Linked DNA regions of Homo sapiens: all the other regions are linked to region 2. Evidence: fine-mapped expression QTL. A gene starts in region 2. Each other region holds a variant in brackets. All regions are shown on one strand. Distances are from middle to middle.

What was found. PIP is the estimated chance that this variant, and not a neighbour inherited with it, causes the effect. A credible set is the group of variants that fine-mapping cannot tell apart.
Region 1: its variant is the best candidate, but not a certain one, in a credible set for the expression of RAP2C in blood mononuclear cells (TOPMed, PIP 0.71).
Region 3: its variant is the best candidate, but not a certain one, in a credible set for the expression of RAP2C in aorta (GTEx, PIP 0.57).
Region 4: its variant is the best candidate, but not a certain one, in a credible set for the expression of RAP2C in whole blood (TOPMed, PIP 0.80).

Annotation. Positions count from the first base shown.
Region 1 is chrX:132,131,164-132,139,247 of GRCh38, reverse strand. It overlaps the pseudogene AGKP2. Among named protein-coding and RNA genes, the nearest start is that of FRMD7, 7.2 kb to the right of the region's middle. The variant C/A (reference allele first, on the strand shown) is at 4,212.
Region 2 is chrX:132,216,180-132,224,263 of GRCh38, reverse strand. It overlaps RAP2C (RAP2C, member of RAS oncogene family), which reads left to right and starts at 4,817. Exons shown (of 6, transcript NM_001271186.2): 1 at 4,817-4,894; 2 at 5,923-6,032; 3 at 6,252-6,348; 4 at 6,458-7,268. The coding sequence starts at 6,996. It overlaps RAP2C-AS1 (RAP2C antisense RNA 1), which reads right to left and starts at 5,757. Exons shown (of 3, transcript NR_110410.1): 1 at 5,427-5,757. RefSeq lists enhancers at 1-511, 4,446-4,495, 4,826-4,895 and silencers at 6,328-6,377, 6,388-6,827.
Region 3 is chrX:132,510,144-132,518,227 of GRCh38, reverse strand. No RefSeq gene overlaps it. Among named protein-coding and RNA genes, the nearest start is that of MBNL3, 25 kb to the right of the region's middle. The variant T/C (reference allele first, on the strand shown) is at 3,866.
Region 4 is chrX:132,499,722-132,507,805 of GRCh38, reverse strand. No RefSeq gene overlaps it. Among named protein-coding and RNA genes, the nearest start is that of MBNL3, 15 kb to the right of the region's middle. The variant T/C (reference allele first, on the strand shown) is at 4,313.

The sequences.
Region 1 (8,084 bases), 85 kb after region 2:
CACAATAGCAAAGATATGGAATCAACCTAAATGTTCATCAACAGATGACTGGATAAAGAAAATGTGGTATGTGTACACAGTGGAGTACTATTCGGCCACAAAATAGAATGAAATGTGTCTCTTACAGCAACATGGATGGAACTGGAAACCATTATCTTAAGTGAAACAACCCAGAAACAGAAAGTCAAATACCACATGTTCTCACTTATAAGCTAAATAATGTATACATGCAGACATAAAGGGTGGAATGGTAGATACTGGAGACTCAGAAAGGTGAGAGGATGGGAAGGGGGTAGATGGTGACAGATTACTTAACCAGTACAATTAATTTCTTAATGGGTACATTATTTGGGTGATGGACATAATAAAAGCATAGACTTCACCAGTACTCAATATATATCCAGATAACAAAATTGCACTTGTACTCTTTAAACTTTATACAAAATCTTTTTTTATGGACAATTGATTTTATTTATTTATTTATTTATTTATTTATTATTATTATAGTTTAAGTTTTAGGGTACATGTGCACATTGTGCAGGTTAGTTACCTATGTATACATGTGCCATGCTGGTGTGCTGCACTCACCAACTCGTCATCTAGCATTAGGTATATCTCCCAATGCTATCCCTCCCCTCTCCCCCCACCCCACAACTGTCCCCAGAGTGTGACGTTCCCCTTCCTATGTCCATGTGTTCTCATTGTTCAATTCCCACCTATGAGTGAGAATATGCGGTGTTTGGTTTTTTCTTCTTGTGAGAGTTTACTGAGAATGATGATTTCCAATTTCATCCATGTCCCTACAAAGGACATGAACTCATCATTTTTTATGGCTGCATAGTATTCCATGGTGTCTATGTGCCACATTTTCTTAATCCAGTCTATCATTGTTGGACATTTGGGTTGGTTCCAAGTCTTTGCTATTGTGAATAATGCTGCAATAAACATACGTGTGCATGTGTCTTTATAGCAGCATGATTTATAGTCCTTTGGGTATATACCCAGTAATGAGATGGCTGGGTCAAATGGTATTTCTAGTTCTAGATCCCTGAGGAATTGCCATACTGACTTCCACAATGGTTGAACTAGTTAACAGTCCCACCAACAGTGTAAAAGTGTTCCTGTTTCTCCACATCCTCTCCAGCACCTGTTGTTTCCTGACTTTTTAATGATTGCCATTCTAACTGGTGTGAAATGGTATCTCATAGTGGTTTTGATTTGCATTTCTCTGATGGCCAGTGATGATGAGCATTTTTTCATGTGTTTTTTGGCTGCATAAATGTCTTCTTTTGAGAAGTGTCTGTTCATGTCCTTTGCCCACTTTTTGATGGGGTTGTTTGTTTTTTTCTTGTAAATTTGTTTGAGTTCATTGTAGATTCTGGATATTAGCCCTTTGTCAGATGAGTAGGTTGCGAAAATTTTCTCCCATTTTGTAGGTTGCCTGTTCACTCTGATGGTAGTTTCTTTTGCTGTGCAGAAGCTCTTTAGTTTAATTAGATCCCATTTGTCAATTTTGGCTTTTGTTGCCATTGCTTTTGGTGTTTTGGACATGAAGTCCTTGCCCATGCCTATGTCCTGAATGGTAATGCCTAGGTTTTCTTCTAGGGTTTTTATGGTTTTAGGTCTAACATTTAAATCTTTAATCCATCTTGAATTGATTTTTGTATAAGGTGTAAGGAAGGGATCCAGTTTCAGCTTTCTACATATGGCTAGCCAGTTTTCCCAGCACCATTTATTAAATAGGGAATCCTTTCCCCATTTCTTGTTTTTCTCAGGTTTGTCAAAGATCAGACAGTTGTAGGTATGTGGCATTATTTCTGAGGGCTCTGTTCTGTTCCATTGATCTATATCTCTGTTTTGGTACCAGTACCATGCTGTTTTGGTTACTGTAGCCTTGTAGTATAGTTTGAAGTCAGGTAGTGTGATGCCTCCAGCTTTGTTCTTTTGGCTTAGGATTGACTTGGCGATGCAGGCTCTTTTTTGGTTCCATATGAACTTTAAAGTAGTTTTTTCCAATTCTGTGAAGAAAGTCATTGGTAGCTTGATGGGGATGGCATTGAATCTGTAAATTACCTTGGGCAGTATGGCCATTTTCACGATATTGATTCTTCCTACCCATGAGCATGGAATGTTCTTCCGTTTGTTTGTATCCTCTTTTATTTCCTTGAGCAGTGGTTTGTAGTTCTCCTTGAAGAGGTCCTTCACATCCCTTGTAAGTTGGATTCCTAGGTATTTTATTCTCTTTGAAGCAATTGTGAATGGGAGTTCACTCATGATTTGGCTCTCTGTTTGTCTGTTGTTGGTGTATAAGAATGCTTGTGATTTTTGTACATTGATTTTGTATCCTGAGACTTTGCTGAAGTTGCTTATCAGCTTAAGGAGATTTTGGGCTGAGACAATGGGGTTTTCTAGATATACAATCATGTCGTCTGCAAACAGGGACAATTTGACTTCCTCTTTTCCTAATTGAATACCCTTTATTTCCTTCTCCTGCCTAATTGCCCTGGCCAGAACTTCCAACATTATGTTGAATAGGAGTGGTGAGAGAGGGCATCCCTGTCTTGTGCCAGTTTTCAAAGGGAATGCTTCCAGTTTTTGCCCATTCAGTATGATATTGGCTGTGGGTTTGTCATAGATAGCTCTTATTATTTTGAAATACGTCCCATCAATACCTAATTTATTGAGAGTTTTTAGCATGAAGGGTTGTTGAATTTTGTCAAAGGCTTTTTCTGCATCTATTGAGATAATCATGTGGTTTTTGTCTTTGGATCTGTTTATATGCTGGATTACATTTATTGATTTGCGTATATTGAACCAGCCTTGCATCCCAGGGATGAGGCCCACTTGATCATGGTGGATAAGCTTTTTGATGTGCTGCTGGATTCGTTTTGCCAGTATTTTATTGAGGATTTTTGCATCAATGTTCATCAAGGATATTGGTCTAAAATTCTCTTTTTTTGTTGTGTCTCTGCCCGGCTTTGGTATCAGAATGAGGCTGGCCTCATAAAATGAGTTAGGGAGGATTCCCTCTTTTTCTTTTGATTGGAATAGTTTCAGAAGGAATGGTACCAGTTCCTCCTTGTACCTCTGGTAGAATTCGGCTGTGAATCCATCTGGTCCTGGACTCTTTTTGTTGGTAAACTATTGATTATTGCAACAATTTCAGCTCCTGTTATTGGTCTATTAAGAGATTCAACTTCTTCCTGGTTTAGTCTTGGGAGAGTGTATGTGTCGAGGAATTTATCCATTTCTTCTAGATTTTCTAGTTTATTTGCGTAGAGGTGTTTGTAGTATTCTCTGATGGTAGTTTGTATTTCTGTGGGATCGGTGGTGATATCCCCTTTATCATTTCTTATTGTGTCTATTTGATTCTTCTCTCTTTTTTTCTTTATTAGTCTTGCTAGCGGTCTATCAATTTTGTTGATCCTTTCAAAAAACCAGCTCCTGGATTCATTGATTTTTTTGAAGGGTTTTTTGTGTCTCTATTTCCTTCAGTTCTGCTCTGATTTTAGTTATTTCTTGCCTTCTGCTAGCTTTTGAATGTGTTTGCTCTTGCTTTTCTAGTTCTTTTAATTGTGATGTTAGGGTGTCAATTTTGGATCTTTCCTGCTTTCTCTTGTGGGCATTTAGTGCTATAAATTTCCCTCTACACACTGCTTTGAATGCATCCCAGAGATTCTGGTATGTTGTGTCTTTGTTCTCGTTGGTTTCAAAGAACGTCTTTATTTCTGCCTTCATTTCATTATGTACCCAGTAGTCATTCAGGAGCAGGTTGTTCAGTTTCCATGTAGTTGAGCGGCTTTGAGTGAGATTCTTAATCCTGAGTTCTAGTTTGATTGCACTGTGGTCTGAGAGATAGTTTGTTATAATTTCTGTTCTTTTACATTTGCTGAGGAGAGCTTTACTTCCAAGTATCTGGTCAATTTTGGAATAGGTGTGGTGTGGTGCTGAAAAAAATGTATATTCTGTTGATTTAGGGTGGAGAGTTCTGTAGATGTCTATTAGGTCCGCTTGGTGCAGAGCTGAGTTCAATTCCTGGGTATCCTTGTTGACATTCTGTCTCATTGATCTGTCTAATGTTGACAGTGGGGTGTTAAAGTCTCCCATTATTAATGTGTGGGAGTCTAAGTCTCTTTGTAGGTCACTCAGGACTTGTTTTATGAATCTGGGTGCTCCTGTATTGGGTGCATATATATTTAGGATAGTTAGCT[C/A]TTCTTGTTGAATTGATCCCTTTACCATTATGTAATGGCCTTCTTTGTCTCTTTTGATCTTTGTTGGTTTAAAGTCTGTTTTATCAGAGACTAGGATTGCAACCCCTGCCTTTTGTTGTTTTCCATTTGCTTGGTAGATCTTCCTCCATCCTTTTATTCTGAGCCTATGTGTGTCTCTGCACGTGAGATGGGTTTCCTGAATACAGCACACTGATGGGTCTTGACTCTTTATCCAATTTGCCAGTCTGTGTCTTTTAATTGGAGCATTTAGTCCATTTACATTTAAAGTTAATATTGTTATGTGTGAATTTGATCCTGTCATTATGATGTTAGCTGGTGATTTTGCTCGTTAGTTGATGCAGTTTCTTCCTAGTCTAGATGGTCTTTACATTTTGGCATGATTTTGCAGCGGCTGGTACTGGTTGTTCCAGTACCAGGAGCTTTTTTAGGGCAGGCCTGGTGGTGACAAAATCTCTCAGCATTTGCTTGTCTGTAAAGTGTTTTATTTCTCCTTCACTTATGAAGCTTAGTTTGGCTGGATATGAAATTCTGGGTTGAAAACTCTTTTCTTTAAGTATGTTGAATATTGGCCCCCACTCTCTTCTGGCTTGCAGAGTTTCTGCCGACAGATCTGCTGTTAGTCTGATGGGCTTCCCTTTGAGGGTAACCCGACCTTTCTCTCTGGCTGCCTTTAACCTTTTTTCCTTCATTTCAACTTTGGTGAATCTGACAATTATGTGTCTTGGTGTTGCTCTTCTCAAGGAGTATCTTTGTGGTGTTCTCTGTATTTCCTGAATCTGAATGTTGTCCTGCCTTGCTAAATTGGGGAAGTTCTCCTGGATAATATCCTGCAGAGTGTTTTCCATTCTCCCCGTCGCTTTCAGCTACACCAATCAGGCGTAGATTTGGTCTTTTCACATAGTCCCATATTTCTTGGAGGCTTTGCTCGTTTCTTTTTATTCTTTTTTCTCTAAACTTCCCTTCTCGCTTCATTTCATTCATTTCATCTTTCATCGCTGATACCCTTTCTTCCAGTTCATTGCATCGGCTCCTGAGGCTTCTGCATTCTTCACGTAGTTCTCGAGCCTTGGTTTTCAGCTCCATCAGCTCCTTTAAGCACTTCTCTGTATTGGTTATTCTAGTTATACATTCTTCTAAATTTTTTTCAAAGTTTTCAACTTCTTTGCCTTTGGTTTGAATGTCCTCCTGTAGCTTGGAGTAATGTGATCATCTGAAGCCTTCTTCTCTCAGCTCGTCAAAGTCATTCTCCATCCAGCTTTGTTCCGTTGCTAGTGAGGAACTGTGTTCCTTTGGAGGAGGAGAGGCGCTCTGCTTTTTAGAGTTTCCAGTTTTTCTGCTCTGTTTTTTCTCCATCTTTGTGGTTTTATCTACTTTTGGTCTTTGATGATGGTGATGTACAGATGGGTTTTTGGTGTGGATGTCCTTTCTGTTTGTTAGTTTTCCTTCTAACAGACAGGACCCTCAGCTGCAGGTCTGTTGGAGTACCCTGCTGTGTGAGGTGTCAGTGTGCCCCTGGTGGGGGGTGCCTCCCAGTTAGGCTGCTCGGGGGTCAAGGACCCACTTGAGGAGGCAGTCTGCCCGATCTCAGATCTGCAGCTGTGTGCTGGGAGAACCACTGCTCTCTTCAAAGCTGTCATACAGGGACATTTAAGTCTGCAGAGGTTACTGCTGTCTTTTTGTTTGTCTGTGCCCTGCCCCCAGAGGTGGAGCCTACAGAGGCAGGCAGGCCTCCTTGAGCTGTGGTGGGCTCCACCCAGTTGGAGCTTCCCGGCTGCTTTGTTTACCTAATCAAGCCTGGGCAATGGCGGGCGCCCCTCCCCCAGCCTCGCTGCCGCCTTGCAGTTTGATCTCAGACTGCTGTGCTAGCAATCAGCGAGACTCCGTGGGCGTAGGACCCTCTGAGCCAGGTGCAGGATATAATCTCCTGGTGTGCAGTTTTTTAAGCCAGTCAGAAAAGCGCAGTATTCGGGTGGGAGTGACCTGATTTTCCAGGTGCCGTCTGTCACCACTTTCTTTGACTAGGAAAGGGAACTCCCTGATCCCTTGTGCTTCCCGAGTGAGGCAATGCCTCGCCCTGCTTCGGCTCGCACACGGTGCACACACCCACTGACCTGCGCCCACTGTCTGGCACTCCCTAGTGAGATGAACCCGGTACCTCAGATGGAAATGCAGAAATCATCCGTCTTCTGCGTCGCTCATGCTGGGCTATACAAAATCTTTTAAATAAGAAAAATAAAATGGAATGTCGAAGTAAATGAACACATCTTTCACAATAAAAGAAATCCACACAAAAAAGAAATTAATATAAATGTAATGGCACTGGGGCCAGGCACGGTGGCTCACACCTGTAATCCCAGAACTTTGAGAGGCTGAGGCGGGCAGATCACGTGAGGTCAGGAGTTCCAGACCAGCCTGGCCAAAATGGTGGAACCCCCATCTCTGCTAAAAATACAAAAAAAAAAAAAAAAAAAAAAAACTAGTGGAGTGCGGTGGCACATGGCTGTATTCCCAGCTACTTGGGAGGCTGAGGCAGGAGAGTCACTTGAACCCGGGAGGTGGAGGCTGCAGGGAACCAAGATCGCACCACTGCACTCCAGCCTGGGAGACAGAGCGAGACTCCATCTCAAAAAAAAAAAAAAGTAATGGCCCTTAAACATATGAAAAGATGCTTGACTTCTCTCATAATATGAAAAGTACACCAAGATTTTTTTTCTCACCTATCAGTTTGGTAAACATTCAAAAGTTCGATACTCCACTGTCAAGCCTGTATAGAAAACAGTCACTCTCATATATTACTAATGGGACTGCAATGTAGCACAACCTTTATTAGTTTGGTAGGGCTGCCATATGAAATATCACAGACCGGGTGGCTTAAACAACAGAAAGTTATTTTCTCACCATTCTGCAGGCTAGAAGTCTGAGATCAAGGTGTTGGCAGGACTGGTTTCTTCTGACACCTCTCTCCATGGCTCATAGATGTACATCTTCTCCTCTATGTGTCTTCATGTTGTCTTCCCTCTCTACATGTCTGTGTCCTACTCTCTTTTAATAAGGACACCAGTCAAACTGGATTACGACCCACCCTAATGACCTCATTTCAACTTAATTACTTCTTTAGAGACCCTCTCTCCTAATGCAGTCACATTCTGAGTTACTAGGGCTCAGGACTTCAATGTATGAATTTTATGGGTCACAATTCAACCCATACTAACCCTTATGGAAGGAAATATAGCTATCATGACTACCAATTCATTATCCTTGACCAGCAACTCTACTTCTGGAAATCTATCCTACAGATATATCTGCACACATATAAATTGACATATGTATGAAGATATTCATTTCAGTCTTGTTGAGGCTGAAATATTAATTTCAGACTGGCTGAGTGAACTTTGGTTTGTCTACACAGTGCAAAATTATGCAGCTGTGAAAAGAAATGAGGAAGTTCTCCATGCACAGGTAAGGGCAGATCTCCATGATAAATGAGGAAAAAGAATGCACAAAACAGTGTAATACTAGTATGCTACCTACATAGGATATATATATATATTTGTATTTGCTTGTATAAAATTTGCATAAGGAAACACTGAAGGCTGAACAACTACAACAAAACGCTAATAAAAGTGGTTATTGAGTGGGACCAGCCATGCAAATCTCTAGAAGATGACGGTGTTCTTTAAAACACTTCAAAATCATTGGAAGAAAACTACAGCTGGGCTCTTCCTGCTGACCTGGGGAGGCCAGTGGCTCTATGGAAAACACTGTGATAACCTACTAAGGAGAGCAGCCTGTGAAGAAGCTCAGGTGTTTGGCAATCAACTCATTCCTCCCAATGCACAAGTGAAGAAGGAA
Region 2 (8,084 bases):
AATGGATTTTAATAACCTGAGAAGCATGTCTTACATGTCATTTCTTTCTATGGCTTAAACCTGATCATAATCACCATTTGTTAAACACCTACCATATGATGGGTACTTAGGCACTTTTTCTTACTTAATCTTCACAATACCCAAATAAGGTAGATCTATTAATATTTTCCCTTCACACATGATGAAAGAGAAGCTCAGAGAAGGTAAGAAGTAACTTGCCTCAGGCTACATATGCAGCACAGCCAATGGTTGAACCTGGCATGGATGTCGCTAGCCCCTGATTTTGTATACCGCAATTAAGACCTTTGTAAAAACACATTCCATGGCTTCCTACAGCCTCCAGGGGAAAAGTCAAACCCCTTAGCTTACTACTCAAGGCTTTCCCCTATGGTTCTAGCCCCTACCGATTCTTCTGGCCTCCTTGCCTACTGCCCAATCACCTTCTCTAGGAAATCTTCCCTGATACCCTTCCTAAGTCTCCCATAACACCCTGGCCGATATCTGTATCACAGGATGTGCCACGCTATACTGTAATGTTGATTGTATTGTCTATATTCCTCAAAAATGCTAGTAAAGTGCTTGGCACAGAGTAGGAATTCAATAACTGTGTGATAAATGAATGAGTGGATACATTAATGAGTATCAAGCAAGAAAGCCCCAAATAATGTCCTACCGCTTTACAGAACAGTGGTGCTTAAAATGTGGTCCCTGGGCCAGCAGCAACAGTGTCATCTGGGAACTTAGATATGCAAATTATAGATCCTGACCCAGACCTACTGAATAAAAAACTCTGGGGTTGAGACCTGGCCGTCTGTGGTTCACATCACCTCCAGGTGATTCTGATGTACATATATTAGGAGTATGGGAGTATAGTTATTATTAGTACTAATTCTTTAAATTTATTTGGTACTTGATAGATTACAAAATAATTTTCTAACTACTATCTTTCAAATCAAGGATGAAGTGGAGAGGGAAAAATTGTTAAGGAATTCAGATCTATTTTAAACACATCCCTATTTAGTACGCCTCTCAGTTCTGAGAAACTAACTTTGTCAGCAGTCGCACAAATTTGTGACTTTGTAGGAGTGTCTGCCTGGCCAGGTTGGGGTAGTGTCCTCTGTGGTCAGCAGCACCTCTAGTGAAATCTCATTGATTGGATGAAGGATTCCAGGTGAGCAAAATTGAATGTGATTAAATTCTCATTGATGCTGTAGGAAAGCTAAAGCTATAGGAAAAAAGGCTTACTCATGTAGGGGATGAGGGATACATGAGTATTTTTTAGTGCTTTATGCAGACATGATGTTTCAGTAAGTGAAAGAAGCCATTCACAAATTTATATGAACCCATTATTAGTTTACAAAAAAAAAATGTTCTTTAACTCTCTCCAGAAAAAAAATTGTGAAAGACACTAAAATGTTAATAGCAATTTTCTCCAGGTAGTGGGATTATACTTTTATAATTTTTTGCAAATAACATTATTTTCATGAGAAAAAAGATAATAATAAAGGTATAAAATTGGTTTTGTGTACTGGGGGAGCCTGACATGCAGAACTAATGATTAACTAATGATTGGTGTAGCTGGAGGCAGGATTTGAAAGAGAAGATTGGAATCTTAGAGGGTAGGAGCTAGAAAGAATCCAGGACAATTTAGCTGATATCAATGGGGTCCCTAAAGCATTGAAATAAGATTTCTGTAGGCAAAGACTGAGGACATTACTGGCTCAAGCTTTCTGGTAATTCAAGAGCAACTTCTAGCAAAAGAGAAGGGAAGAGCCTGGATGGAAAATAGATAGCCATGTATAGAAAGTAGATGGATAGCCATGGGTTTTTTCCCAGGACCTAGAAGGCAAGACGGCTCATTTGGAGAGTGGAAGTTAGGGTAAAATATCCCAGGCAGTTGGTGGCTCCAAGGATTGCAACTGAAGGAGGTAACAACTCGAAAAGAAGAAAGGGATAAGTAAGCAACTGGTGCCTGTAGCAAACATCCAGCACTTTAAACTTGTGCCAAACTAATTTCAAAAAATGAGATTATGGCCCTATTACTTATATTATCTGCATATAGTGCATACACTGTGGTTTCTTCACACTATGGTAAAAATGGGTTGTGTTCTTTAAAATAATGCCTGAGCAATACTTTGGAAAGGAGGTTGATGCAGAATTAAAGCAAAAGTTGTGAATCTCAAGGGCATGATCTCTAGAGAAGTCCTCCCATTCCCCTCTTCCCATATTCAAGCCTTTGGAGTAGAAAATTATTACTTGAGCAGTTTCTATTTATTGAGCAATTAATATTTGGAAGGCTAAATGCTTTGAATGGATTTCTCATTTATTATTCTATGAGTTAGATACTGCTATTATGCCCAACTTTACAAATGAAGGAATGGAGGTGTAGCTTGCAAAAGGGCAGTGTTAGGACTGTCTGGCTCTGAAGTCCAAATTCCTTCTAAAACGCTGCCCTGCATTTGTTAGTCCTGAAAATACCCTAAAGCAAGTAACAATCACTATAAAATGCTAAAATTAGTAATACCTACTGTGAGGTTATAAAATGATACGGTCATACTGCATTGGTGGGAATGTGAATTGGTGTGACCTTTCTGAAGGACAATTTGGCAATACTTACCAGAAGAATTTTAAGTGCAAGTGCCTTTTGTTTCAATTATTGAATTACTAGAAATTCACCCTAAACATTAACTGACAATGATATATGTCCAAGGCGTTTAGTGCAAAAACCTAGAAGCAATCAGTGTCCTTCAAAGGGGAGCTGGCTAATTAGCTTATGATACAGCCATGAAATAAAAATTAAGAAGGCCAGACATGGTGGCTCATGCCTTTAATCCCAGCACTTTGGGAGGCCAAGTCGGGAGGATCCCTTGAGCTCAGGAGTTGGAGACCACCATGGGCAACATAGTAAGACTCCATCTCTACCAAAAAAATTAAATTAAATTAAATTAGCTGTGTGTGGTGGCATGTACCTGTAGTCCTAGCTACTCGGGAGGCTGAGGTGGGAGGATCCCTTGAGTCCAGGAGGTTGAGGCTGCAGTGAGCTATGATCATGCTACTGCCCTCCAGCTTGGGTAACAGAGGGAGACACTGTCTTAAAAAAATTAATTAATTAAAGTTTAAAAAGCAAGGTAAAAAATAGTGTGTACAGTTGATTACTTTTGTAGTACAGTAATTTTTAAAAATATATATAGAAGGTAGATTGATACACTGACATATGAATAATGTTCCCCCCTGAAAAACATAAGAAGCTTTTAACAATAAATATCTTTGTGAAGAGTAACTGAATTATTATTTTCGTGCCACTTGCAGATATTTGAGCTTTTAAAATTTTGTTACCCCCATGTTTGCTATTTTTTAAAAATTAACAATTCATTAAATCTTTTAAATAAAAACCAAATAGCATTTATTGAGGCTTTATAATGTGCAAGGGACTGTGCTAAGCACTTTACCTGTAATACCTCATTACATTTTCACGTTAACTTCTTATCTCCTTTTTACAAGTGAGGAGTTAGAGGCTCAGACAAGTGAAATCACTTGCTTGGGGACACAGAGCTAGAATGTGGCGGAGCTGCAATTTTAATGCACCTCTGTCTCATTTCAGAGCCTTAGCTCTCAACTGCCAGGCCGCACTCTTCTGCTTGCTCTTTATACCCTCATTGCTTAATGAGAGTACACTAGCAAACAACAGGAGTCTAATGAGATAATGTATGTGAAAATACTTTTCTAAGTATAGAGATGTTTGGGGAGGGCAAGCAAGGGTAGGGAATTTGTTTAAATTGGGCGGACCTGTCCACTGACCCCTAGACAGTCAGGATTTTTTTTTTTTTTTTTTACAAAACCAAGATCAACAACTTTCTTTTGTTCCTCCTTTAAAAATATTATAAAGTTATATTTACTTCCTTTTTCCCAATTATTGTTTATAAATTAAAATATGGAGAAATAAAAGCCATTTCATAATAGTCCTCACCCATAATTACTTTGTTTCAGATTTGAATGGCTATGTAACTATTACACACCTGCGTTTTACATAAACAGTAGCAACTAGACATTTGTTCAGTATCTTGCTTTTTCAGCCCTACAATATATCTTGGCCATCTTTTTATATAAACACTTACAAATCTGCTTTTCTCTTTTAAAGTAGCTGCATAATATCCTATTCTGTGAATACAGATAGGTAGGTAGGTAGGTTGGTAGATAGATAGATAGATGATAGATAATAGATATAGAGAGCTATGAAACTTTTAAAAATCACCTACTGAAGGACATTTAAGCTTCTTCCAATTGTTTGATTTCCTAATCAATGCTGTAATGAATACCCTTCCTAAGAAAGTTTAGAAGGATCTTTAGACTGAGTGTAATATTTGTCCACTGTAGTTGACGAGAGTGACCCCACAGGACGCTGTACTGAGGGGAGGAGTATGTTTCACTGCGTGGAGAAACAAAGAACTCTCTCCTAAGCATGACCAACACATTCAGAGATATTAGAATTGCCAACAGGTGGGATGACCTGAAAAAGAACTCCTTGCTTTGACAGTTTAGTAATAGAGCAAAGACTTGCCACGATTGCTCAACACTGGCTGGATCAGAAGAGGAATTTCCAGACTCAGTTACAAGCACGGCTGGTGGAGGGCTGTGAATCCCACCAGACAGTCTGGAGACAGCTAGGCAGGGAGATGAGCAGCAGAGCTCCAAATCAGGCAACAGCACGTGTGAAAGGAGCAGTGACCTGTGGGGAAACTCATAACTCACAGACCAAACCCCTTCCAGCAGAGGGCAGTGCCTCTGATACGACACAGGGCCCAGGCCAGCTGGAGCCAGAGCTGGGGACTTCGCTGGAGAGATGGCACCGGCCTGAGGTCAAGGAGAAATTGAACTAAACTCTCCTTTGAAGACTGTAAGTGACATTGGGGAATACTCAGGGAGGGACAGTGGGACCTCACACTACTATGATTCGCCTGTGTTCTAATGTCCAACAATTTAGGCTGAGTAATAAATCTCTTTATAGAGTTTGGCCATTTAGGGCTTGTAAGTAAGGGAATTTGGAGTCATTTTTGCTAGGCTGGCCACTGAGTCTCGCAGGTTTCTGGGTACATGCTTGAATTGAAAAGAAAGTGACACACCTAAAATACAGCCTAGACTCCTGGCCCTGGGGCTCTGTGGATCCGACACAAAGTTTACAAATAGAAAGCTAGCAAAGGGAAAGATAGTCGGAAGTAACAATTTTATCTAAAAATAGAAACTTAGAATCTAACACCAGAGTTACTACTTGCTTTTGAATTTCAAAGACTACATAGGATGGCCTTTAAAACAAAACTTCAGCATGTAAGAGCCAGCCAAGCAAATTGTTATACATAATCAACGATTAAAATAAATTAGTCTTTAGGCCTAAACCGTTTCCAATCAAATCTTTCTTGAATATTGGTTACCTTTTCTGCCGTGTAGTGGTTGGAATCAAATGAGAACATAGCTGAGCAGAGTACCATAAAGTCTACTTCTAATGCTGCTGTTTTCGAGCCTTGTGATTTTTTTTTAAGTGACTTTAGTATTCGCTGGTAAAGTCAAGGCGGATCTACCAGACGGTAAAAGTTCTGTGTGTTTGTCAGGCACGGCTAAGTAAAACGCACTGCATCTGAAAGTCTAAGGGTAGTTTGCATGCATCTCTCAGCAAAATAGCAAGTGGAAGAAATACCAGCAAGGAGAATAAACTTTCTGGGCTGTTTGATTTCCCCTGCAACTTCTAGTCCAGGGATGTTTGGCGTTCTCCCGGTCGCTAGATTATTAGCCCGCAGGTTCCGCACCGGCCAGGGAGCCGCTCAAGTCCTAGGGCCGGGCGGCTGGAGGTTGCAGGTCGGAGGGGCTTCTACGGGTTTGGGGGTGGGACGGTCCGCGGCAGCCGCGGGCGGGTAAGGACTGACGTCGCAGGTTTCCAGAGGCCCGTTCCCGAAGCCGGAGTCCCGACCCGAAACCGTCCCCGGCCGGCTCGCTCGCTCAGCAGGGCGCGGCTCCAGCGCCACCCGGCTCGCCCCGAAGAGGTGGGACTTTCCCCACCGGAAGTGATCCCGTCCAGTCTCGGGGAACTGGGGCACCTCAGCCAGTGTGTCAGGGAAACCCTTCCGGGTGTGTGCTTGGTGGGGGTGGGGGTGGGGGTGGGGGTGGGGGTGGGGGGTGGGTGAGAAAAAAAAGAGGTGGGTTCGCCTGGAGTCCCTGCGGCCGCCGCGGAAGGCCCCCGCTTCTTTCCCCGCGGCGAGCAGCAGCGCTGGGGCAGCGGAGAGACAGAGGAGCCAGCGGGTGGCCATGGCCTTGGCGTGACAGAGCCTCCCCGGCGGCCGGGCGGGTGCGGACGGCGGGGTAAGCGGCAGTAGCTTGATCCGGGTGGGAGTTGGGGGAGGCGGCGGCCGGCGCCGCAGGTTCGGGGCGGGGGTCAGCCGGGTAATGTGCGTCCTTCTCCCCTTCACAGGCCGGACGACCCCCGCGGGAGCCGGGGCCCAGAAACCCGCCCGGGCAGCGGTAACTGGAACGGAGCCCTCAGGCCTGAGCCGGCTGGGCTGCGCGAGCAGGAAGCGGGGTCCCTGGGCCCCTTTGTGTGAAGGGCGGGGGAGGAGTGCCGGGCAGCCCCGGGCTGCGGGCTCCTCCGACGTCCGCCTCGCCGCAGGGTCCCCTCGCCGCAGCCCCCACCCTTTCCCTCCCGGGGGCACGCGCCTCCTCGCCACCCTCGCCGGGCTTTTCCCAGGCTCGCCCTCCTCCCCACGCCCCCTGCTCGGGCTGCAGTTCCTATAGGAAGGGCATTACCATCCCTTCCCCACCCTCCCCGACTCTACGCTCTTTCCCCTCCCCCTCCTGTAACTTCCTCTTCTTCCCCGGTTGGGCCCTCTGCTCCTCTGCACTCTCCTCCCCAGTTCGCAGATTTCCGCCCACCTTCCGCCTCGTCTAGCCGCGCCACAGCTAGCGGGGTGATCTTTCCCCCCCTCTGGTAGGAGTTGGTGAAGGTGAGACTCATGAGGGAATACAAGGTAGTGGTGTTAGGGAGTGGAGGGGTTGGCAAATCTGCCCTTACTGTGCAGTTTGTCACTGGGACTTTCATTGAGAAATATGACCCCACCATTGAAGATTTCTACCGCAAAGAGATCGAAGTGGACTCTTCCCCCTCCGTGCTGGAAATTCTGGACACCGCAGGAACTGAGCAGTTTGCCTCCATGAGAGATCTCTACATCAAAAACGGCCAAGGTTTCATCCTGGTTTATAGCCTGGTTAATCAACAGTCTTTTCAGGTAACCAAACCAAGTCTTGTAATTTGTTAGAAGGGGGTGTGGTAATCCGACATCGACTTCTGGGTTGCTTGAACCGTGCATTAATGACTGTGCTTTGCTTTTGAAAGTTAGACATGACGCATTTTTGAGGTTACTCCTGCCATGGAAGACTATCGGGTTGTTTCTATAGAGCGTAGTAAAAAGTAACAAGCGTCAACAAATATTTTAAAGCTATTTTTAAGTGAAAGAAAAGTGAAAAAGAAATGTCAGTCTGTGTATATTTCGCCTGGAATATAACCTTCTGAAGTTGCTTGCTCAATTCAACAAGTATTGATTAACTTACACGACAAAACATCTAACAAATAATCTCGGGTAAATAGAGCACTTTGAAAAAATTATTTGGAGCCGATTATCTGTTGCACAGATAAGTCCTCTGTGTCTGTCCCACCCACACCTTCCCCTCCCACCCCCCAACACCCCCTCCCGCCGCCCTCCCCTTCTCTCTCAAGTTTCTCAACTAGATTCATAAATCTTAGTGTTGCAAGACGAAGAACTCAAGACCTGCCTTCTAGGCATTTTACTTAATTACTTGGGGCGTGTAGTAGGAAGAAAAGTTACTAATAGAAAAGACTAGTACCTAGAATTAATAACCAACAAAAATCAGGAATGACTCTTTTTCTGCAGTTGATCCAAATTGTTTCTGGTAACATTGCCTGTATTTACAGAAAATACGTGGGTCTGGGAACACTGAACAAGTGCAGATTTCTTACTCCGGCTGGGTGGCCAAACTGGATGTGGTCCAATCTCTTAGAAAATCTGTCCTGTCCTTCACTGGGA
Region 3 (8,084 bases), 290 kb before region 2:
TCTTTTTTTCTCCCTCATTTGTACCTCCACCCATCCACCCATCAAGTAAAGCCAGAAACGTGGATATCATCTTTGATTCCTCTCTTTCCTTCAGCACCACCCCATCCAATCCTTCAGTAAATCCTCTAGTCTCTACCTTTAAAGTACAACTTGAACCTTTCACTTTTCTCTGCTACTACTGCCATGATCCTAGGCAATTCCATAATCATCTTTGGCCTGGACTTCTACAAAAGTCTCTTAATCTGCCTATATCCAGCCGTCTCTCTCCACCATCAATTCTATGCATTGACATAAGACATAAAATATATAAGACATAAATCTGAAAATATATTTAAGATTGGACCACTCACCTACTTAAAATCCTTCAAAAGTTTCCTATTACAGTTAGAACAGGGTTTCTCACCTCAGCAATACTGGTATTTCTTTGTTGTGGGTAGGAGGGGCTATCCTGTGCCCTATAAGATGCTTAGCAGCATCTCTGGCCTTTACCCACTACAGTAGCAGCCCACCCCGAGTTGTGACTATCAGAAACGTTTCTAGGCATTGCCAAATGTCCCTTTGGGGAGGGGGGAAGAAAAATTACTACTGATTCATAACCACTAAATTAGAATCAACCCCAATATCTTACCATGGGCTATACAACCTTTCAAGAGCTGAACTCTGCTCACCTCTCTGATTTTAGTGTATATCGTACCTCACTACGCTCACTATATTCCAGCCACAGTAACCATCTTTTTGTTCTGGGAATGTGCTCTAGCCTCAGGGTTTTTTCCTTTGCTTGGGCTAATCCCTCTTTTTGGAATGCTCTCCACAAACATGTCCCTGCCTCATACCACATTTGCTTATTTGACATTTGTTCACTATTCAGATTTTAACTCAGTGAAATATTACTTGATTTCCTAGACCACTGAAGTTCCCTATATGTACAATCTCAGGTACTGGTACACTTCCTACCCAGGGCCATGTCAATGATGGATCACAATTGTATTTCCAGCACACAATCTAGGGTTGGGTTCCTAGGTTCTAAATCCAGCCCCACTACATATTAGCTATGTGACTTTGGAAAAGTCACTTGATTTATTGAAGACTTATTTTCCTCTTCTATGAAAAAGGGGCCTTACTTCATTGGAAGGGGCCTTACTTCATTATTACTCAAAATATTGAGGAATAAATGAATTACCTAATGGAAATTTTTTTACCAGCATACATACCTACCACATAATAACTCAATAAATGCTAGTTACTACTACTGCTGCTGTTGCTGCTGCTACTACTACTACTACTACCACTACTGCTACTAGTACTACTACTACTACTACTATTACCAATTATTGTTATATTTGCATCAAGACAATGTGACCTTAGGTGGAAATTCAGCCATAGCTTTCCAATTATTTCCTTTTTGGCCCAAGAGGAGCAGCACTTTTCCCTTTAAAATATATGAACAGATTGTTCTTTTTGCTGATTTGATTTTTTTTCACCTTTAAGTGGTTATTTGAATATTCTACTGTGAAGAGCAAAATAATAATATTCAGCCAATTCTGCATGGTCCTTTCTTGGTAAATAAATTGGTTTCTGCATTTGTCCATTTTCATGCTGCTGACAGATATACCTGAGACTGGGCAATTAACAAAAGAAAGAAGTTTAATGGAGTTACAGTTCCATGTGGCTGGGAAGGCCTCACAATCATGGCAGAAGGTGAAAGGCACATCTCACGTGGCAGAAGACAAGAGAAGAGAGCTTGTGCAGGGAAATTCCAGTTTTTAAAACAATCAGATCTTGTGAGACTCATTCACTATCACCAGAACAGTGCAGATAAGACCCAACCCCATAATTCAATCACCTCCTACCAGGTTCCTCCCATGACATGTGGGAATTGTGGGAGTTACAATTCAAGATGAGATTCGTGTGCGGCCAAACCATATCAATTTCTTAGGTGTAACTTCTGATACTTGATGACTTTTCTCAGTGCTTGCCTACCTGCTGAACAGAATAAAACAATTATATAATGCTCACATAATCTCCTATTGCTTTTTAAACTCTCATTTTAAGTCATTTTAAACTGTCATTTTAATTATTATTATTTTAATCTTATAAAGAAGACGGTCTGTAGTAGACAGAATAAACACCCCCCTCCTCAAATATCTCCATGTCCTAATCCTGAGAACCTATGAGTATGTTGCCTTCCATGGCCAAAAAAAAAAAAAAAAAAAAAAGACTTTGAAGATATGATTCAGTTGAGGATCTTGAGATGGGGAAATTATCCTGAATTATCCAGGTAGGTGCAACCACAGGGGTCCTTTTAAAGAGGGAAGGCAGTGTGAATACAGAAGGGGAGAGAGAGATTTGAAGCTACTCCACTGATTTTGAAGATGAATAAGGGGACCAGGAGGCAAGGAATTTAGGTGGTCTCTAGAAGCTGGAAAAGGCAGGAAACAGATTTCTTCCCTAGAGCTCCCACAAGGAACCAGTCCCAAGATGAAAGCCAAGAATGAGGGGGAAAAAACAAGATTTCCTTGTTAACTCACTATTTTTACTTCCTTGTATGTATTGATATATAATTCACATACAATAAAATTCACCATTTTGAAGTGTACAGTTCAGTGGTTTTTACTATCTTAAGATTCCACAATCATTACTGTTATGTAATTCTAGAACATTTTCATCACCCCAAAAAGAAACCCCATATTCACTAGCAGTCACAAACCATTTTCCCTCCTCCTACCCCTGGCAACCACTAATTTTTCTGTTTCCTAGGATTTGCTTATCATTCACATTTCATATTATTAGACTTATACAAAATGTGGTCTTTTGTGTCTGATTCTTTCACTTATAATTTCATAAGTTTAATCCATGTAACATGTATCAGTACTTCATTCATTTTATGGCTGAATAATATTCCATTGTATGGATAGTCCACATTTTTTTTCTCCATCACCAGTTAAAGAGTGTTTGGGTTATTTCCACTTTGGGATATTTTTATGAATAATGCTGCTGTGAATATTGTGTGGGTAGAAGTTTTCCTTTCTCTTGAGTATATGCTATATACCTAGGAGTGGAATTAAGTCATGTGGTAACTCTGTGTTTAACTTTTTCAGGAACTACTAGATTGTATTCCAAAGTAGCTGCACCATTTTATTCCCACTAGCTGTATATGAGGGTTTCAGTTTCTCCACATTCTAATGAACACTTGCTATTGTCTGTCTTTTTTATTGTACCCATCCTAATGAGTATGAAGTGATATTTTAATTGTGGCTTACATTTTCCTTATGGCCAATGATGCTGAACAACTTTTCATGACTATTTGTATATGTTCTTCGGAGAAATGTCTCCAAATGTCTGTAGCCAATTTTTAACTGAATTATTTGCCTTTTTGTTGTTAAGAGGTTTTAATTCTTTATATAGTCTAGATATTAGACCCTTATTAGCTGTATGATTTCCATATTATTAGATATTTGCATATTATTAGATATATGATTTGCTATATGATTATGATTAGATATATGAATTGCATCACATAGATATATGATATCTCTCATATATGCATATATGATATCTCTCATCTATGCATATATGATATCTCTCATATATGCATATGTGATTTGCATATTATTAGATATATGATTTGCAAACATTTTCTTCCATTCTGTAGGTTGTCTTTTTACTTTCATGACAGTGTCTTAAGAAGCGCAAAAGCTTCTAATTTTGATAAGGTAAAATTTTGCTATTTTTTCCTTGGGTGCTCGTGCTTTAGGTGTCATATCTAAGAAACCATCGCTCAACCAAATTTCACCAAGATTTACACTTATGTTTTCTTCTAAGAGTTTTGTAACTTTAGCCATTAAATACAGACCTTCGATCCATT[T/C]TGTGTTTTTAGTTAATTCTTGTATATGGTGAGAGGTAAGGGCTCAACTTCATTTATGTGTGGATTTCTAGCTGTCTCATAAAGGTTACTTAAAAAGATTATTAATTCTCCCATTGAATTGAGTTAGCATCCTCATCAAAAGACAATTTACCATTAATGTATAAGTTTACTTCTGAATACTCAATTCTATTCCATTGATCTATTTTTATGCCAGTACAAGATAGCCTTGATTACTGTAGCTATCCATGTACTAATTTCTGAAATAGGAAGGTGTGAGACCTTCAACTTTAATCTTATGTTTCAGGATTGATCTGTCTTTTCTGTCACTCTTGTATTTCCATAGGACTTTTAGGATAAACTTGTCAATTTCTGCAATAAAAGGAAGCTGGGATTTTGTTAAACATCACATTGAATCTATAGATCTATTTGGGGAGTGTTGCCATTTAACAATATTAAGTCGTTCTGTCTGTGAAAATGGCAGGGTCTTTCCATTTTTTTATTTAGGTTTTCTTCCATTCCTTTCAATGATTTTTTTTCTTTAATTTTCAAGGTATACATTTTGCTTTTGTTAAATGTATTATTAGTGTAATTTCTTTTGAATCTATTTTCAATTGAATTGCTTTCTTAATATCACTTTCAGATTGTACATTGACAATATATATAAATACAAGTGGTTATTTTTCCAATACAATACTATGTATTTAAGTGATACCAAGGGAGCTATCTTTCCTCACACTATATATGTTCTATTACAGACTTCAAGGTAAGCCCTACTTCATGAGTATCTTTGGCCTTGGATAACATCTATGACATATTACCAAGTTATATTGTTCATAAATGTATTAATTGAATGACAAATAAGTGCCATGTACTGAGACTGGATACATATATAGAAAAACTCATGGTGTCTACCCTCCAGGAGTAACATAAAGAGACTAGAAACACACAATGTGATACATTTTATGAGAAATTTGTCAAGACAATATAAAATATTGATTCATTACATATTACAATTAACTTTTGCATATTAATCTTGTATCTTACAAACGTGGTGAGCTCATTTACAAGTTCTAATAGTTTTCTTCTGAATTCCACAGTATTTTCTTATATAAGATCATACCATCTGCAAATATGGTTTTACTTCTTCCTTTCCAGTCTGGATGCATTTTACATCATTTTCTTACCTAATTGCTCTTGCTGGCACCTCCAGTACAATGTTGAATAGAAGCAGTGAGAAGCATCCTTATCTTGTGCCTGATATTAGGGGGAAAGCTTTAAGTATTTCACCATTCAATATGATACTAACTGTGAGTTTCTCATAGCTGCCCTTTATCAGCATGAGCAGATTCCTTTCTATTCCTAGTTTATTGAGTATGTTTACATGAAAGAACATTGAATTTCATCAAATGCTTTTTCTGAATATATTGAGAGGATCATGTAATTTTTCCCTTTATTCTATTAATATGGTATCTTACATTAATTGATTCTTGCATGTTGAAGCAACCTTGCATTACTGGAATAAGTCTTACTTAGTCATAGAATATAACATTTTTACGTGCTGCTGTATTCTGTTTGCTAGTATTTCATTGAGGACATTTACATCTATATTGAGAAGAGATATTACTCTATAGTTTGTTTCTTGTGATGCCTTTGTCCGACTTTGTTATTCGGGTAATACTGGCTTCATAGAATGAACTGATAAGTACATTCTCCCCTTTGAGGTTTTGGAAGTTTGTGAAGTATTGGTGTTAATTCTTTTTTTTTTCAGATGACTTGCATTTTACTGCTACACAATAATTATACATATTTATGGGGTACATGTGATATTTTGATAGATGCATGCAATTTGTAATAATCAAATCAGGGCAATTGAGACATTAATCACCTCAAACATTTTTTTTGTGTGTGTGAGTCCATTCCAAGTATTCTTTTCCAGGTACTTTAAAATATACAATAAATTATTGATAACTATAGTCTTTCTACTATGCTACTGAAAACTAGAACTTATTCTTTCTATCTAATTGCATTTTGTACCCATCAATGAACCTCTCTTCATCTTTCTCCCAACTCTAACTTCTGGTGAATACCATTCTGTTCTCCATGTCTATGAGATCAACGTTTTTAGCTTCCACATATGAGGGAGAACATGTGATATTTGTCTGTCTGCATCTGGCTTATTTCAGTTACATACCCTCCAGGCTCATCCGTGTCTTGCAAATGAAGGATTTTATTATTTTTATGGCTGAATATTATTTCATTTTGTATATATACCACATTTTAAAAATCCATTTATCCATTGATGGACACTTAGGTTGATTTCATATCTTGGTTATTGTGTATAGTGCTGTGATAAACATGGGAGTGCAGATATATTCAATATACTGATTGCCTTTCTTTTGGATATATACCCAGCAGTGCAATTGCTGAATTATACGGTAGCTCTACCTTTAGTTTTTCTTAGGAACCTCCATACTATTTTTCATAATGACCATGCTAATTTACATTTCCACCAACAGTGTATGAGAGTTTCTCTTTCTCAACATCCTCGCCAGCATCTGCTATTTTTTGTCTTTTTGATAATGGCCATTTTAACTGAAGTGAAATGCTATCTCATTGTGGTATTGATTAGCATTTCACTGATGATTAGTGGTGTTGAGCATTTTTCATATACCTGTTGACCTTTTCTATTTCTTCTTTTGAGAAATGTCTGTTCACATCATTTGCCCATTTTAAAATTGGATTATTTTTTCTTTTTGCTGTTGAATTGCTTGAGTTCCTTATATATTGTGGTTATTAATCCCTTGTTAGGTAGCCTGAAAATATTTTTTCCCATTCTGTGGGTTGTCTCTTCAATTTGTTGTTTCCATGGCTGTGCAAAAGTGTTTTAGCTTGATGTGTTCCCATTTGTCCATTTCTGTTTCTGTTGCCTCTGCTTTTAAAGTCTTACACCCAAAATCTTTGCCTACACCAATGTCCTGAAAAATTTTCCAATGTTTTCTTTTAGTTTCATAGTTTCAGGTCTTACATTGGTCTTTAATCCACTTTGATTTGATTTTTATATATGGTAAGAGATAGGAATCTAGTTTCATTCTTCTATGTATGGATATCCAGTTTTTCCAGCACCATTTATTGAAGACAGTCCTTTCCCCAATGTATGTTCTTGGTGCCCTTGTCAAAAATGAGTTGGCTGTAAATGAGTGGATTTATTTCTGGGTTCTCTATCATGTTCCATTGGTATGTGTGTCTTGTTTTTATGTATCATGCTGTTTTTGTTATTATGGCTTTTTCTTTTTAGGCACTCAATGAAGATTCTTTTTATTAATATCAACAATAACGTGGATGCTTTATTCATTAAGTATCTATTATTTATGTGCCAGGGGCTGTGTTGGCTTCTACATAAATTGCTGGGATTCCACACATATCTTTTCGAGTCTAGAAGTCATGGAAAACTCCTTTACAAATAACTGCTTAATTAGGGTTTTGTGAATGAATGTGGATTACTGCTCTCATTTAATAGAGAGCAGAGACTTGCTCTGTGTCTGGGACAGGTCTTGTACATGTGAGGGTGCCAGGGAAGAGTCAACCAGTGGCCCTAATTTGGTGATAGTTTCTATTTCCTTCTTCCCTCAATAAAACTCAGTTTCTTGAGTTTTCTCTGCTTTTTTGATACTTCATCTGTTGGCACTGTCAGGGAACATCTGGTATCTCGGAACTATAAGCATCGTATGTACCCCTCACGTATATAAAACTCTTATGTTTTAATTGTTTTGAGTAAAACAATTAAAATGTAAAAAATCCTTAGCATTCTCCCTCTCTCTGAATCATACTAACTTTGAGACTAATAGTAGGTTTTTTTTTTTAATTTTTTTTTACTTTTAATTTTGTGGGTACATAGTAGATGTATGTATTTATGGGATACATGAAATGTTTTGATACAGTCATGCAATGTGACATAATCACATCATGGAGAATGGGGTATCCATCCCCTCAAGCATTTATCCCTTGTTTTACAAACAATCCAATTACACTGTTTAGTTATTTTGAAATGTAAAATTAAGTTATTATTGACTGCAGTCACCCTGTTGTGCTATCAAAATATAGCTTCAATGTATATTTTAAAACAAGATAGTATGGTGCATCCAACTTTGTTTTTTTATTCAGAGTTGCTTTGGCTATTTGGGGTCTTTTGTGATTTCTAGGTATTTTGTTGTAGCTATTG
Region 4 (8,084 bases), 280 kb before region 2:
CTAAGACACACCAAATTGGCTGACTTTCACGCATTTTGTTTTTGGTTTTGTTTGTTTGTTTGTTTTTAGTAGAGACGGGGTTTTGGCCAGGCTGGTCTCAAACTCCTGACCTCAAATGATCCGCCCACCTTGCCTCCCAAAGTGCTGCGATTACAGGCGTGAGCTACCGTGCCCCGCCACTTTATTGTTATTTTCTTCTCTCTGAAGGGTAATGACAACAACATTCCAGTAAGATGAGACTTCTAGTTGGTTGAGTTCCAATTAATTGAGGTTTTTATCTATTATCAATAACTGGGAGTTGACTTTAAATGAGAAAAAACCTTGTGACTCTCTAAGTATGTAATTTTGAATGGAAAAGTGTTAAGACTAATCACTTACTCAGGGTCTGTGAGAAATTCTGTATTTAGCTTTTTATTTTGAGGGTCTTGAGTGGCATCAAGTATTACATTTCTAAAAAGAAATCCATCCAGTAAAATTTTGTTCAAGTGAACTCAAATTAAGCTTCCCAATTAATTCACTTAGCTTTCCTTTGATAAGTGTGTTTTGTGTTGAAATACCGGTATAAAAAGAATAACAAATATTAAGTTAATTTAGAGTAATTAGAAAAATGGTTCTTCCTTTGTTGGGTTTAAATGTGGTCCAATCTTTGAGGGTTTAACCTTTTCTAGTAGGATCATTTGGTATTAAGATAGGGAAAAGTGAAACATTAGTAAAATTCAAGCCACTACATTCTGCTTTTAAATCTGTGTTCACCTTTCTACTCTTGTAATCTAAGCTCAACTGTTCATTCCTTTTATCTCCATCCTCTTCAAATCTTCTTCATGTTTTCCTTATAGATTAAAAGATGGGAATTTAAAGCACTAGTTTTATGTAGTGTGTAGATGTGTACAAATTCCTATATTTGTTTACGTACATACACATACACCTTATTCTTGAATGTGCACCTCGGGGTCTACAAAAGATATCCACATATCTCGACTGTTTATCACAACAGCCTTTCGAAGTCAGAGTTTGTAATCCCCATTGTTAGAAATGGGGAAGCCTAGATTTTTTAATCCACTTTAAACTAAATTTTCTCCCCCCATACACACAATATTTAAATAACATTTCATAATTTAAATATAAATTAGTGCTGTCCCTTTTAGGGCTATACACTTACTTCAGTTTGGTTAACGACCCTCCTCTTTGGAAACTATCTTCTGAGCCCATTCTTATGACTCTCAGTGGTGCAAAAGTTCAGTCTCCTGAGAGTGGGTTTAATTTTTGGAAAGGACACCTTCCCTGGAAGCGAAGTCTAATGCAGTAGGGGGGCGACATTGGATCAAACTGAACAATGCTGTTTGTGTTCACTGACTAGGTGTGGATCTGAAGAAATGACTGTGCTTTTCTTTTACGACTCAGATACTGGCTCTAAAGACATTTCCCCAAGAGGAGTTCCAAAATGTGAAGTACTGGCAGTGAAAAGTCTACTTTTGAAAGACAAAGGTCACTTGGATGTTTCAAGTGTTGAGAGTTTCCTTCAAAGTAGTCTCATTGCATTTTAGGCAGGCAGTGGTCATTACACAGTAGATCAGCTTGTTCCCTAATGATTTAAGTATAACTTCACTTTCACTGACCTCACCTTCTGTAAAACAAAGCCTTGAAGCACTTAGCAGGAGTCACTTATTTTAAAAAACCCTAGGCCTCGCTTAAATCACACTTGTTCCCTTCAGGCCCTCAGTAGGCATCACCCTAGAATCAAAGTGAAGAATGATTTGGGTGTCCTGCTGATGTAGGAACCATCTTAGTGAAGAGAATTGCCTCTGTTGATTGGATTGAGGAATCCTAAAATCTAGATAACTTATTCCAAATCTTTCAAATGTAAAGAGCTTGGATGCATGTGGGTTTTACTGCTCTGAAAGGAACTGTGACTCAGGTTAGGATTGAGAAACAAATGTAATCAGTGGCATTCAACATCCTTTTAATTCTGGGAGGTCACAATGTTAAAGGGACTTAAGACAAGGATCCCATAACTGAAGCATGCTGAAAAATACATAATAGGATTCAGGAGAAATCATCCTCAGGAGTGTTAAGAAATAATCACAGTTCTGTGGTGCCTTTCTTCTTTGCCACTGAAATGCAGCCAACTCTTGGTGGCAGAGCATGCAGCCCACTTCCACACAGCACACTGCATAGCACAAGTGGAAAGAAGAGTAGGAAAACTTTCATTGCCTTCCCAATGTTTAGCCAAATTTTTATACTCCTGTGAAAAGACCCTGATGCTTCTCATTGTAATGCTTTGTCTGGAAAGAGCAAGTATCTGGTAATTGACCTTGGTTAGGATTCTTGGAAGCTACAAACACAGGGCTGCCAGCTTTGAATTTTTCCATTGCATTGTGCAATGGCACAGCCAGGGGGTTCTGTCCTTGGACCATTATGCAGTAGAGGAGCACACAAGTAATTCTTTAAGAATGTTCACTTGTGAATAGAGTTTGCTGCTGTGGCATATGCTTCCTTTAGAGACAGGGAGCACCGGCAGAGGAATGGTGCTGGCTACAGAGGGCGACACTTAATGCATATTTTGACTTTTGATTTTTACAGCCAAGGCTGGACTGTTCCTTTTGGACTTTGATCTAAGCCTTATCATTCATTACACATTGTTATGAACCATCGGTTTTAATTACACTGCCTTTCTTTATACTCTCCTCCTTGGTCTGCCTTCCTAGGTCCATTAGAAACATTGTTTCATAGAAGCACTATTGAGAGAAAACAACAGTGCTTCCATATTTCCATATTTCCCTTCTTATGTGCCCCTTATCTCTCTCTCTCTTTCTCTCTCTCACTCTCCCTCCCCTTTCCTATTTAGTGAAGCACCTGCATTATTCATATGTGAATGTTGGCCCTTTTATATTTCACAGAATAGCAGAAAGAAAAAACAATGACAATTTTGAAAAATGTACTACTTAAGTACACTCCATTTTTTAAAGTTGCTTTTTTCTCTGACCTATGTAAAATGTAAGGGTCTAAGCAGTATTATAGTCACACTCCCATTTAACTGTCACTCAGGCAATCAGAACCTTCAAGCAACTGGCAGAAGTTGCAACTGCATGTGCAATCTGGGGAATCCTACACTGACAAGAAGGCCTGCACTCCAAAGCTGCCTGCCTAAGTCTTCAGACACATGGGGAAAGATGCTGAAGTTGCCTAGCAGTACTTCACATATGCTAATTGCAGCCATCAATGATTGTGGAAAGAGGGGACTCTGTGGCTAAGACTGGCTGGTCATGGCATACAATCAATTTGAGTGCATCTGAGGGAAAGGATGCAGGTTTGTATAAAAAGGGTTGTATTTACCAAGGAAATACCGTATCATATATGAGCTGTTTTTAATGAGCTGAAAAGAATTATTTTTATAATAAACAGTGACACAGGCTGGTGGAGAAATGCAAATGTCAATTTTTTTTTTTTTTTTTTTGCCTTAGAAAAGAGGAAAATAGGTCTCATCATAGGATGAAGAAGACAAAGATGAGTAAAAATTGGGGGAGGGAGTGTACAAAATACAAGACATTTAAACCACTCGTCTATAATTTCTCCAGTTCTTCTGAATCATTCTGTTATCTGTGCCTGAACCTATACAAACTGTGATTTGAATTGGGATGGAAAAGTACTGCTCCAGCCTGTAGTTTAGAAGTCTCAGAAGATATCTAGTCCAACTCATTTCACTCGTGTATTCATTTATGCCTTCCTTCCTTCATTTATTCATCAAACATGTTTGAGTGCTCACTGCATTCGAGGTGATAGTAATACAAATATAAGTAAGATATAGTCCATGCTCTGAAAGAGTTCAAGGCCTATTGGAATAGTGCATTAGCAGACAGACTGGAAAGTGGAGAGGCTGAATTGTGTTCAACACATAGCGGGAGCACAAAGGGGAGGATGATCACTTTTGCCAAAGTAAGTTAAAAAAAAATCATAATAGGGCTGGGTGCGGTGACTCACGCCTGTAATCCCAGCACTTTGGGAGGCTGGGGCAGGTGGATCACCTGAGGTTAGGAGTTCGAGACCAGCCTGGCCAACATGGTGAAACCCCCATCTCTACTAAAAATACAAAAATCAGCCGGGTGTGGTGGCGCACACCTGTAGTCCCAGCTACTCAGAAGGCTGACGTAGGAGAATCACTTGAACCCAGAGGCAGAGGTTGCAGTGAGCCGAGATCATGCCACTGCATTCCAACCTGGGCAACAAAGTGAGACCCTGTCTCAAAAAAAAATCATAATAATTCACAGACCAGGTATCATTACTGATGAAGACAATGAGGCCTGCAGAGGGAAAG[T/C]GAGCTGCCTAAAGTCTGTGTGGGAGGCAGAATTGCATACCACCTTGCCATTGCTATAAAGGCCTTAGTATCACACCTCAGTACAGCAATAACAGGCCAGTCTTGCCCCCATAAATGGCAAAGGAAGCCTGAACCATTTACTTAAAGAATTCCACAGAAACAAAATTACATTCTCCTATGGGACAAGGGAGGTTAGAGAGAATGATTAGAAAGATTTAGTGTTCCCTTCCTTTCCCTCCTCCTCTGGCTTATTCTGCTCAGCCAGAACCACCCAAAACAGCCTGGACTTTGGGTCCTCATGAGACTTTTTCCTAGTGGGTTGTTACCAGGACTGATGCTTTGTCTACAAGAGTGACGTCTTGGGGTTGGTAAAAGGCTGTATTTCTAATCATCCGTAACTAAGAGGTTAGATCAGTTAGCACATGTGTTATCCTCATTCAGGAGTGAAGGGAAGTCCACACTGCTGGGGCAGCCTCGCCAGTGAGCAGTTTTATTGCATAAAGAAAGAAGAATCTCCCCTTCTCCCCCATTAATCTGAATCTCATTTTCTAATGAGTCCACCTTCTGGAAATGTTACTGCAGTTACTTACATGACCACCTTCAAGGGACTTCTTTATTAAGTCGTAATCAGAGGGTTTTATTTGATAAGATTTGAACATGAAGAGAAACAGTAACAACAGACCAAATCTGGCAATCTGTCTTTATTATTATTTGTTAACAGTAAAGACAAGGGTAAGGAATTATGATCTCACCTCTTTCCTTGATCATTTTAAGTATATTTGTGATAGAGGCCTATAACCCTTTTTGAGTTAAGATATGTATATCAGAGGGAGTAAGATGATGGATGAGTTATCTAAGAATATGCAATAAATTGGTAATGCTAGAGGCAATGATACTGACTCTCAAGCTAGGATTTAACTTCTTTTGGGTCCCATTACAATCAGAAAGTAAATGTGTGCTATGTGTAAAATATGCAAAGGAATATTGTACTACAAAATTTTTACATGCTGTCATTTAAATGGGAATGTTAGCTACACAAAATGAAAGATTATAATAATGTTAATAGACTTTTTTCTTCTTAGGCTTTATTCATTTATTTGGAAAACATATAGTGTTACACTGTTCTAAAACTTATAAAAGTTCTAAATTCATTCATCTTCATAACTACCTTTTGAGGTAGATACCATTATTTTCCCCAATGTACATACAGATGTTAAACTGGTTTATTTTAAATTTGAATTTGTTAATAAAGGGAAGAAGCGGTTTACACATTTACTTCCCATTATTATACAAATTGAGTAGACCCATTTTTTTTTTCTTCAAAAGAAAATGATTAAGGCAAATTGTCAATTTCCATTTTTTCAGAGAAATCAATGTTTACGGTATGCCCGTTATCCTGCCTTATCCTCAACCTCACCCTTCTCTTCATCAATGAAAATGTACTATTACTGGCTTTTGGAAGAACATAGTAACTAAGGTATAATTACACGCTATCTCTCAGGAGCAAAGCAGACTTGGGGTCTGAATGTTATTTACAGCCCCATGTTTTCCTTCCCAAGACTTCTGCTGTCTTCTAGCTAATTTTAGCTGTGTGAAGGAGGAAGACTGATGGATCCAATTGCCAAAGCAGACAGAGTGTGGACATGCAGTGCCAGGTTCATGCCGTAACTGGTGATGACACCTCAGTAGAACCTTGCAACAGTTCTTGTAATCCCAGCTGGACCTCCCCTGAGCAGAGACAGCAATTATGTGTAGTGGCTTTCAGATGTAAACAAATGTTCATGGGGAACTGACTTATAATCAGCCAAGTCATTTCATTTATGGCTTACATCAAATTGGAATGAAAGGCTCTGATCAGGGAAATTGAGCACATTCATTTACTATCTCAGCAAGTGTTTTTAGAACTTATGTACAATTCTTTCCCTTTAAAGATATGACTGTTCAGTGTATTTAAGGCTTGAAAGCATTTTAGAAATAGAGTGTATCTTAAAAATAACTCTATATCTCCTTTTGTACTTAGCTCCAGTATACCAATGTATATTTGGCCATTTTCCATTACTGTTATTTATTATGACTCAGTGCCATATGCCTGGGAAGGGATAACATAGAAAATTATGTTTTTATGGGAACGTTGGTGGTGCCATGTTATTTCTCTGTTTCTCAGTCTCTGTCTTTGTTTCTCTTTCTTTTATTAACTGTGCTTCAGCAAATGCTTTAAAACGATGGTAGCTGACACCATCACTGGCCATCAGAGAAATGCAAATCAAAACCACAATGAGATACCATCTCACACCAGTTAGAATGGTGATCATTAAAAAGCCAGGAAACAACAGGTGCCGGAGAGGATGTGGAGAAATAGGAACACTTTTACACTGTTGGTGGGACTGTAAACTAGTTCAACCATTGTGGAAGTCAGTGTGGCGATTCCTCAGGGATCTAGAACTAGAAATACCATTTGACCCAGCCATCCCATTACTGGGTATATACCCAAAGGACTATAACTCATGCTGCTATAAAGACACATGCACACGTATGTTTATTGTGGCACTATTCACAATAGCAAAGACTCGGAATCAACCCAAATGTCCAACAATGATAGACTGGATTAAGAAAATGTGGCACATATACACCATGGAATACTATGCAGCCATAAAAAATGATGAGTTCATGTCCTTTGTAGGGACATGGATGAAATTGGAAATCATCATTCTCAGTAAACTATTGCAAGAACAAAAAACCAAACACCGCATGTTCTCACTCATAGGTGGGAATTGAACAATGAGAACACATGGACACAGGAAGGGGAACATCACACTCTGGTGACTGTTGTGGGGTGGGGGGAGGGGGGAGGGATAGCTTTAGGAGATATACCTAATGCTAAATGACGAGTTAATGGGTGCAGCGCACCAGCATGGCACATGTATACATATGTAACTAACCTGCACATTGTGCACATGTACCCTAAAACTTAAAGTATAATAATAATAAAATAAAAAAAAGATGGTAGCTGAGAGAATTGTTTAAAAAATACAAAAACCATACTAAAACTTTATATAGAATGAGTTAAAAACCAGAATGTCTATTTCTTTCAGCCATTGGTTAGGTATGAAACAAAAAACTGTTAAAATGCATGGGCAGATGTGGAAAATGTGAGTACATAAGACCAAATGATTCCAGAACTCTATGCCCTGCCATATACATTTCTTTCTTGAATACTATATGCTGCCTCTCTGCTCAGATCTACCCTTGCTTCTGCAGTGCCCATGACTATGCTCCAGCCATTTAGCAAGTACTCAAAACTTTAAGACCACTCAGTGTTTGAACTCAATACACAGAAGAAATGCTAGGTACTTTGGAAGGTGAAAATAAGCAAGTGAACTCCTCAAGAATAGGTGTATGAACTAGTTTGAAAAACAAGATAATGTGCAGGAAGAATTCAAATCATTAGGCAGGCAATCTGAAACTGGATATGAAGCAGGGAATCAAAGTAGGCGTGGACTGGGTAAGTTTCCTGGGGGATACAGGACTTCAACGAGTCCTTGAAGAGAAGTCAAACTTGAGGTTTATGGAGGAGGTAGGAATTGTGCTAGGACTGAAGCATTTGGACCTGGGCTCAAGTCCTGCCTCCTTCTCATAATGGCTGTATAACCTTGGGAAGATTATTTTATTTACCACACACTTATACAACACTCCATATGTGGCAGGCACTGTTCTAAGTGCTTTGTAAATAGTAACTCACTTAAGCTTTATAATAATTCTATAAAGCAGGTAC